Linked DNA regions of Homo sapiens. The protein of the gene in region 1 purifies or fractionates together with the protein of each later gene. This does not show direct contact. Each region holds a gene or a part of one and is shown on either strand. Other genes may lie near its edges.

Region 1 (3,811 bases):
ATGGGTCAGTTCTCCTTGGAACTGAATCAGTGGAAAGAGAATGCTTCCCATAGAAAGCCCGACATGGTGCTAGTTTCCTCTCTTGGAGAGCCAAGGATAAGTGACTCTCCAATAGGTTCTTCTATACCGATTTCATTTTCTAAACTGTATCAGGACCCAGGTGTCCTGCATTGGCATCTGCAGGGATATTGAACCCACTCATCCTGTGCAGAGGATGAGAGGAAGGTGTTAGTTCCATCAGCCCCATAAAATTATGAACCTTTTTGCAACTAGGAACATATACAGTAAACAAGCAATACATCACCAACGAGCATTCTTTCAGAAAAATTACCATATTTTTGTCCCCACCACAAGCTGGGTTTTTTTCCAGCTTTCTGTGGCTGAGGGGCTGGTGAGATTTTTTGTTGTTATTGTTGTTGTTGCTAGAATTTTTTATAGCTTAGATATAAAAGGTCTCCAACAAAGACCTTTGCAATATATTTTAATTACAAACACTTGATTTTGGGAATTGCACATATTAACCTCACAATATTACTAGCTCATTTTTAAATGTCTGGACATTCTGAAATAATTTCCGGTTACAGAATTACCCTTTTTAGGATCATCTTCTAATTCAGATAATCTTATTCTGATGAAGCGAGAACTATGAACGTTGAAACAAGGACAATTTGTGTTGGATGGTATTCAAAAGGAATTTTTTAAAACATTAAGCAACAGTGTAATGATTTTCAGGTCAAATTATGGCTTCACAAATATGTGCTCTATATTGTCTGCCAGGTCTCAAAAATTCATCAAGCAATTTCCCTCCAACAAGGGCTGCAGTTCTAGTGATAAATAGCATCTTTAGCTGCACAGTCTACTACTCATCAACCAGTGGGTTTTTTTTAGCACCTGGAAAGTTTTTTTGTACTATATGCAACTCCTACTTCACATTGCCTGTGACCATTCAGAATAGAAAAAGGTCTGTTGATGCATGCCAGTGCTGGTTACTAGTCAGTGACAGAGAACACAGAGAGGGACAAACACAGCCATGAACCCCCTGGCACTAGTACCAGCACCTAGTTGGCAAGTAGTGGGTGCATCTCTCAAGTGAAGTGTAGATTTGTATTTAGTCCTGCTTGCTCTCATAAAAAGAGCCAGTTCTTTTCTCTGCTGAAAGATGTCTTGAGAGTATTACAGGTAGACTTGGTTTTTAGAATTCATAAAACTGACAGGCAGGGGAATCTTCCTGAGTGACAGCTTGGTTTAAATTTAGCACAGAACTAGATGAGTTGCACTTTTCTAATAACATAGGATGGATTTGGGGAAGGGAACATTTTCCCTCATCCTCTGAAAGTGGAAACCAGACTGAGATGGTAAGTTAACTGATAAAACCTGTCAGCATTCCATCATTTTCCCCTTTTGACGTATCAGTACTTCTAAGAAGGGATCTAAGCACAATTAAGTGAATTGAGTCCCTGGTCTAGCCTCAGGAACTGAAACTTCTTTGGGGCTTGTCTTGAGACGTGGCAAATTCTCCTTGGTGAGTTTTCTAAAAGTATTTCCCCATGGAAAGGAGAAAGTGGTTTGGGACAGAAAGAAATGGAATGTCTTCAGTCATGGAAGAGCCTCCATTTCATCTCATGTCCATTTCTAGCCTCTTTCAAAAAGCACAGTGCATCATGAGCAACAGAAAAGCAGTAGAATCCTAAAGGACATAACAGTTGTTCCGTAACTAGAAGCATTCTTTGATTTTAAATTTGAAGCTGTTCAGTTTGCAGCTGGGGATATGTGCATGGTTGGGAACTTATACACATAGAGCCATTAACTACTTAAGCAGCTGCAGTAGACCTGATTTTCTGTTTGCAGTATAGAGATTGATTTCAAGGGAGTTACATTATTTGAAAAGTTATGACTTTCAGCCTTTGAGGTTTTAAGAATCCCTTTTCATGGTCTGATCTTAAGTTGTTTGAAAAAAGATTCACGCTTCTGCATCCACCTCTGCCCTCATTCTGTCAATTGTGTGTGGACTCTGAGAAGCCTGCTTGATAACTTGTCTTAAGTTCTATTAAGGCAGTTAGACTGAGATTTCTAATGACTTCACCATAAAGATTATACTTCTGCCTGGCGTCGTTTCTATAAAACACTATAGGACATTTGTTTTCAAAAGCAGTTGAGTAACAGCAACATAAACCACATTTTTTAAAAAAATGAGCACTTTTCATTCACTTGAAAGCTTAAGTGGGAAAAAGGAAGATGATTGTCAGGGGAAAAACTTACAAAATGCTACAGTGTTTACAAATGCCAGTTCCAGGTGATTAGAAAGGCCGTTTTCATTATGGTTCAGATTTGGAATAGCTTATGCAAAGATTGTGTTCATTTTTATACAATTCTTTTTAACTTTAAATTGCCATCTGTGTTTTAAACATAATTCTGCACTTTGGAATCAGTTCATTAGAATGATAACATTTATATGGATAAAGATGCAGTATTCCTTATTCTGTACTTGATTTATTATACTTACCAAAGCTGCAACTGAATAAATCTGGTGAGGTGAGGCCTTCAAAATGTATTAATACGCCTTTGTTATGTTGTTATGACTGCTTAGAAATGTAGCCATGATGTTGTTCTAAAGATGTCTTAACATTTATAGTGAGGATTGACAGAAATTAAGCAGTGTTAAGAATACCAGCATCCATGTTACAGTCTGCGTATAAGGGACTGAATGTGAGGTAACTCTTATGAATCATAATAGGCCCAGAAAGCCTTAATATTCATAGTTCATAATCCAGTCTCAGATTTTGCTCTTCAATGTTGCCTGTAAACTTAGCAGGTAAATGTATTCTAGTATAAAACATCATTGACCAAATCTCTTCCTTTAGTTTTTCTGAGGTAGTGCATCCCATTAAAAAAGTCTCTTCAATTAGATTTGGCTTTAGTTTAGAAAGGGGTTTGGTAAGTCATGTCTTCCATATGACATTTCTACTCATCCCCACACTGCCTTCCACTTAACCTGTACAGACAGCCCCAACACATGCACATGTGTGTACACAACTGTATATGCAGCAGCCAGTGGGCTAACAAATATCAGCAAAGAACTTTTTTAAAAAGAATTTGTAATAATCCGTGCTGTCTAGAAATGTGAGTTACTTACCTTATTAGGAAACCGGCTTATAATACTATATATGACTCTGCCTGCATTTTATAGTTAAGAAATGTACATAAAAATTGCTATATTTTCACAGTTTCATTATAATGTCTGTTTAGTAACCCATGTCCACTGATACTTTAAATATGCTAATTACTGAGCAATTGCAATAGAAATCCAGATTTTCATAAGAAAATGAAATAGAAGGATACTGCATCTTTAAAAAATAGAGTGAAGATATTTTACTGTATTCGTAACATATGTGATAGTGGAAAAAGTATTTTCAAACTCACAAATTTTACAGAGGTTGTAAATAGTTTGATGAAGTATGTTGGGAAAGAGAGCTTCTAGTTTTCATCACAATAAAAAGAAAAAACTTGTTCAGATATGCCTTGTATATCTTACACACAATGAGTGAAATTGCCATGGGAACTCTGTCCAACTTTGTCAGAGCATGCTCTTCGTGTTCTGTTCAAAATAGAGTGGCCACTTGTCATGGTTTAGCCAGGATGGTTTAAAATATAATGAAGTCATTTTAAGTTGCAGACAACTGATTCCAAACTAGTAATGTCTTTTCCTGAAAAGGGCAAAACAGCTGCACAGGATTTTGCTTGTACTAAAGAGGAGCATCTTACAATTGTTCTCTTTTCTCAGTTATCTCCCTCCTCAACAGAGTGTGAACAA
Region 2 (4,573 bases), on another chromosome or scaffold:
CTAAATTGTAAACTACATGAGGGCAGGAAGTTTAGCTTGATTACTGCTGTAATTCCACACCTACGATAGGAGCTGGCACAGAGTAGGCTCTCAAATATTTGCTGAATCAACTGCGAGCCAAAGAACCTTTTTTAATATTCAGGGAAGGTAAATCGCTCTTTCAAAAAAAACAAAGAAACTGCCATTACTTAATGAGACTGAAGACAGACAAAGCAGCAGAAGAGAAAAAAAAATACATTTAAAAATGTTAATTCAAGAAAAGAATACTTAGCAAAATCTTGGGTTTTTTTTTCTCCTGTTAGGCTTAAAGTACAAGGGTTAAAATGTAAAAACACCCAACTATTTTAGTTTCAACATGGTGACAGCACAATGGTAAAGGAATTATGGGAAATTTTAGCATTTAAGATGCTTCCACTGCTTTTAGCTTTGAAAGTACCAAAAGGAAAAAAGGAAAGGTAGGAGTCAGTCTTGTTTAATTAATTAATTAATTATTTTGAGATGGACTTTCGCTCTTGTCACCCAGGCTGGAGTGCAGTGGCGCAATCTCGTCTCACTGCAACCTCCGCCTCCGAGGTTCAAGTGATTCTCCTGCCTCAGCCTCCTTAGTAGCTGGGATTACAGGCATGCACCACTATGCCCGGCTAATTTTTGTATTTTTAGTAGAGACGGGGTTTCGCCATGTTGGCCAGGCTGGTCTTGAACTCCTGACCTCAGGTGATCCACCCACCACGGCCTCCCAAAGTGTTGGGATTACAGGCGTGAGGCACCGCGCCGGGCCAGTCATGTTTAACTTAGATTATTAAAATATCGATGGTTGACAGCTGCAGCAAACCACCATGGCACACGTTTACCTATGTAACAAACTTGCACGTCCTGCACACGTATCCCGGAACTTAAAAAAAAATCCCATTTATTATCTGACCAGATACACAGTACTCATTCAAAGCCAAAGTTAATTAACATAACTAGTATTGATCTTCTTACCTACGTTATTACCCTGTTCCTTTCTATGGTCTACTTCTTCATTTCCTTAATCTAGCCTGGTCTAACTACTGGATGGCAGATAAAGGCATCATCCTTCAAGTGCAGTAAGGGAGTAGGAAAAACTTGTCTCAAACTAGAAAACTGCCTAGCAAGTCTACTAAGATTTCAGTTTGAAGTCTACTAACATTTCAGTTTTTGTTTGTTTTACTGAACCCTAAACAACCATTAAGGCCATAAACAGACTTAATGACGCTCTACAAGGAGATTCCAGCAGGGCTCACTCATAACAAAAGAGAGAAACCTGTAACACACAAGCAGCTGTTACAAAGCATTTTTTATATATGGCGTTCTCTTCTTAGTTCACTTCACAAAAACCTAAAAAACACTGAGCAAAACCCTGACCCCATCAACTGGTTAAGTGCATAGCAACACTGTACTTTCATTAAATCACTTAAATAGTGTTTAATTCTATTCAGGTCACACAAATCCTTTTCAAAGAGCTAGTGATCTAATAGGAAAAGAGATTGTTACCAAAATAACCTCAACATAATTTCATATAACTGAGACTGTTTTGAGGATTGCCGAATACTTTCTACTTATAAGGCATAGAGTGCTGAACTGCAAACACTCAATTCTAATTTTAAGAACTTTTGGATTAGAAAACAGCTGTTTTGGGGAGAGATGGTAAGGGAAAAAAGTCCCAGTATAGTTACAAAATTAAGTATTACATAATATTTAAAAGAGCTTTCTAGGTTTCTTTCATGTTCTAGGGCAAGCCCTTAAAGAAGAAGACAAGAGATACAGGGAAAGCTAAAGTAGTGTTCAGGGTGGTGGAACCCACTAACAAAACAATCCGCTGGGCACCGTAAGTAAAGCATTCTATTAGGCTGTGACGCGAAACAAGAACAAAGGTTTCATTCCTACGAGAGATTAAGTTTTAGAGCAAATGGACACGATCGTTAAAGAATTTGATATTTCCATGTAAACTGCATTAGCAGGTTATGCGATCCAAACTCACAGGAACAACTCCAACTCTCGGCCATGCCCTATTTCATGTCTAGATTTGTTTAACCGACTTACATCATAATCCAAGAATACGAACTACAGTATATTCTTACAGCAAAGTTATTCCTTAAAAGCAAAACCGAGCCACCTTTGAAAACACGCACACACATTATCCACGGCACTAAAACCCCAGTCTTGACCGAGAAAGACCAACAACTTGGGGGGGAAGAAAACAACTTCAGAGCCAGAGCTCCCAAAGCAGAAAGCGCTGGCGGCTGAAGGGCACACGAGGTTCCGCTCCCGGGCGAACGGGCGGCGTCGGACATCACTAACCAGGCCTGGGGACAGGCGAAGGACTTGCAACTGCGGGCGCCGGCTCTGCGGGCGTTAAGGGAAACGGGGAAGTGAGAAGAGGCGGGGACACGAAAAGAGAAAAGCTCCCTCAAGTTTGCCCGATGTTAACGCTCCAAGGATGAAAAGAGCCGTTTGTTTCGTCTGGGGACCGTCGCGTTTGGCCCTTCCCCCGCCTCCAACAATTCCCGGCGAAGCCCCGCGGCACCAAGCCGGGCCTCCCACCCCCCCGGCGGCCGCCAACCCGCCCGGCCCCAGGACCTCACCTGCAGGGCCGGCCCCGGAGGCGCAGGCGGGCGGCGGGGAGCGCAGCCGCAGCCAGAGGTGCAGCGCGGCCCCGAGCACACACGGGCACAGCAGCACCAGCCAGTTTCGCATTGGCCGCCCCCGCCGCGAGCCGGGCTCTCCCGCGTCCCGGCGGAGAGGGAGGGGACCTGCAAGTGCGGAGACTGAGGGGCGGCGGCTGACGAGCGACCACTCCGAGCACGCCCGCCCTCGCGCTCGGCGACGTCTGGGGGGCTCCTCGCAGCTCCCGGCCCCGCTCCTCCGGTCCCTCAGACCGCGGGTGGCCGCGGCTTAGCCGGCCGAAGCCCCGCCCCCTCCGCCTGGCCTTCCCACCGGCTCCGCCCACCTTTTCTCCCACTCGCCCCGCCCTCTCCTCCCGCGTTTCCACACGCGCCAGCCAGCCGGCCGGGAGCTGAAGTCCCGCTCTGGGCCCAGGCAGGGGGCGCCCGCGGTTTAGAAACCACATTTCCCATGAGCCTAAGCACGCGCTTCCGTCACTCGGCGGCCGCGGGGGCGAAGGGCGAGGCCCCACACAGAGCATGCGCATCCCCCTTGACGTTTGCTGCCACCCCACGGCCCAGGGGAGGTAGTGCCGGAGACCCGGTGCTCGGAGGCTGCCCGGAGCCGCGAAGGGAAATGCGCTTTGCCTCAGATTTGAAGGAAATCCGAGTGGCTCTTGTGTGAAATCACGCAGAGCTCCTTTGTTCCGCGTGCTCTCTTGCTCGACTGCTGTGGGAGGTGGGATCCTGCTGACGTCTCCTTGGCCCGTAGAGTGGGGCGAGGAAGCCCGAGTGTCCGCGCCTGGAGCGGTGACTCATCAGGGATTAGCTCTGGTGCCGTGGGTTCCCGGCTCTTTGCCCGGTTCTGTGCTCTGGGAACGCAGGGTGACAGACAGCGAGCTGGGGACTAGGCTGTGGAACACGATGATGACGAGCCAATCAGGGTAGAACTGCACGTGCTCCGGGTTCATACTGGAGCTGGGAGCGAAACGGGAGCCGGGCGAGCTGGGAGAACGTGGGCTCCGGGGACCTGGGGAAGGGTGGCCGCAGCGAGCCTTCCAGGGAGAACGCCGGCCCCGCGTCTTGAGGCTTTGCCCCGGGTGGGAGCCCTCCTGGCCCACCAGGCCCGCGCCGAGGCAGCCGGAAAGCGGGGACGGGGCGGTGAAGGCACTGGGGTGAGGATGGGAGAGAAGGATGAGAACGAGCGGCTGGGCTATGGGGCGGTTTTTGTTTCTGCTTTTGTTTTTGAGACGGAGTCTCACTCTGTCACCCAAGCTGTAGTGCAATGGCGCGATCTCGGCTCGCTGCAACCTCCGCCTCCTGGGTTCAAGCGATTCTCCTGCCTCAGCCTCCTGAGTGGCTGGGATTACAGGCGCCCGCCACTGCGCCCAGCTAATTTTTGTATTTTTTTTGTAGAGACGAGGTTTCGCCATGTTGGCCAGGCTGGTCTCCAGCTCCTGACCTCAGGTGATCCGCCCGCCTCGGCCTCCCAAAATGCTTGGATTACAGGCGTGAGCCACCGCGCTCGGCCGCGGTTTTTTTTTTTTTTTTTTTAAGTTTCCACAAGTGTGGAAACAGAAGGTGACTGTATTATTGAAAAAAAGTCTTGGATGACAGAAGACCCAACTCAAACAGGCTTAAGGGAAAAAAGTACTTTGGCTCGCCGTGGCTCATGCGTGTAATCCCAGCACTTTGGGAGGCCGAGGTGGGCGGATCACTTGAGGGCAGGAGTTCGAGACTAGCCTGGGTAACATGGTGAAACCCTGTCTCTACTAAAAATACAAAAATTAGTCTGGCGTAGTGGTGGGCACCTGTAGTCCCAGCTACTCAGGAGGCTGAGGCAGGAGGATCGCTTGAACCCAGGAGGCGGAGGTTGCAGTGAGCCGAGATCGCGCCATTGCACTCCAGCCTGGGTGACAGAACGAGACTCTGTCTCAAAAACAAACAAA

Evidence for each region.
Region 2: the proteins of KLF12 (region 1) and B3GALNT2 purify together in Homo sapiens (affinity purification with mass spectrometry; one large-scale study listed by BioGRID and IntAct). This does not show direct contact.

Annotation. Positions count from the first base shown.
Region 1 is NC_000013.11:73,690,405-73,694,215, reverse strand, and holds part of KLF12 (Krueppel-like factor 12), read left to right. Parts: 3' UTR 1-3,811. UniProt on the Homo sapiens protein: Confers strong transcriptional repression to the AP-2-alpha gene. Binds to a regulatory element (A32) in the AP-2-alpha gene promoter.
Region 2 is NC_000001.11:235,501,535-235,506,107, forward strand, and holds the start of B3GALNT2 (UDP-GalNAc:beta-1,3-N-acetylgalactosaminyltransferase 2), read right to left. Parts: upstream 2,919-4,573; 5' UTR 2,719-2,918; coding exon 2,607-2,718; intron 1-2,606. UniProt on the Homo sapiens protein: Beta-1,3-N-acetylgalactosaminyltransferase that synthesizes a unique carbohydrate structure, GalNAc-beta-1-3GlcNAc, on N- and O-glycans. Has no galactose nor galactosaminyl transferase activity toward any acceptor substrate.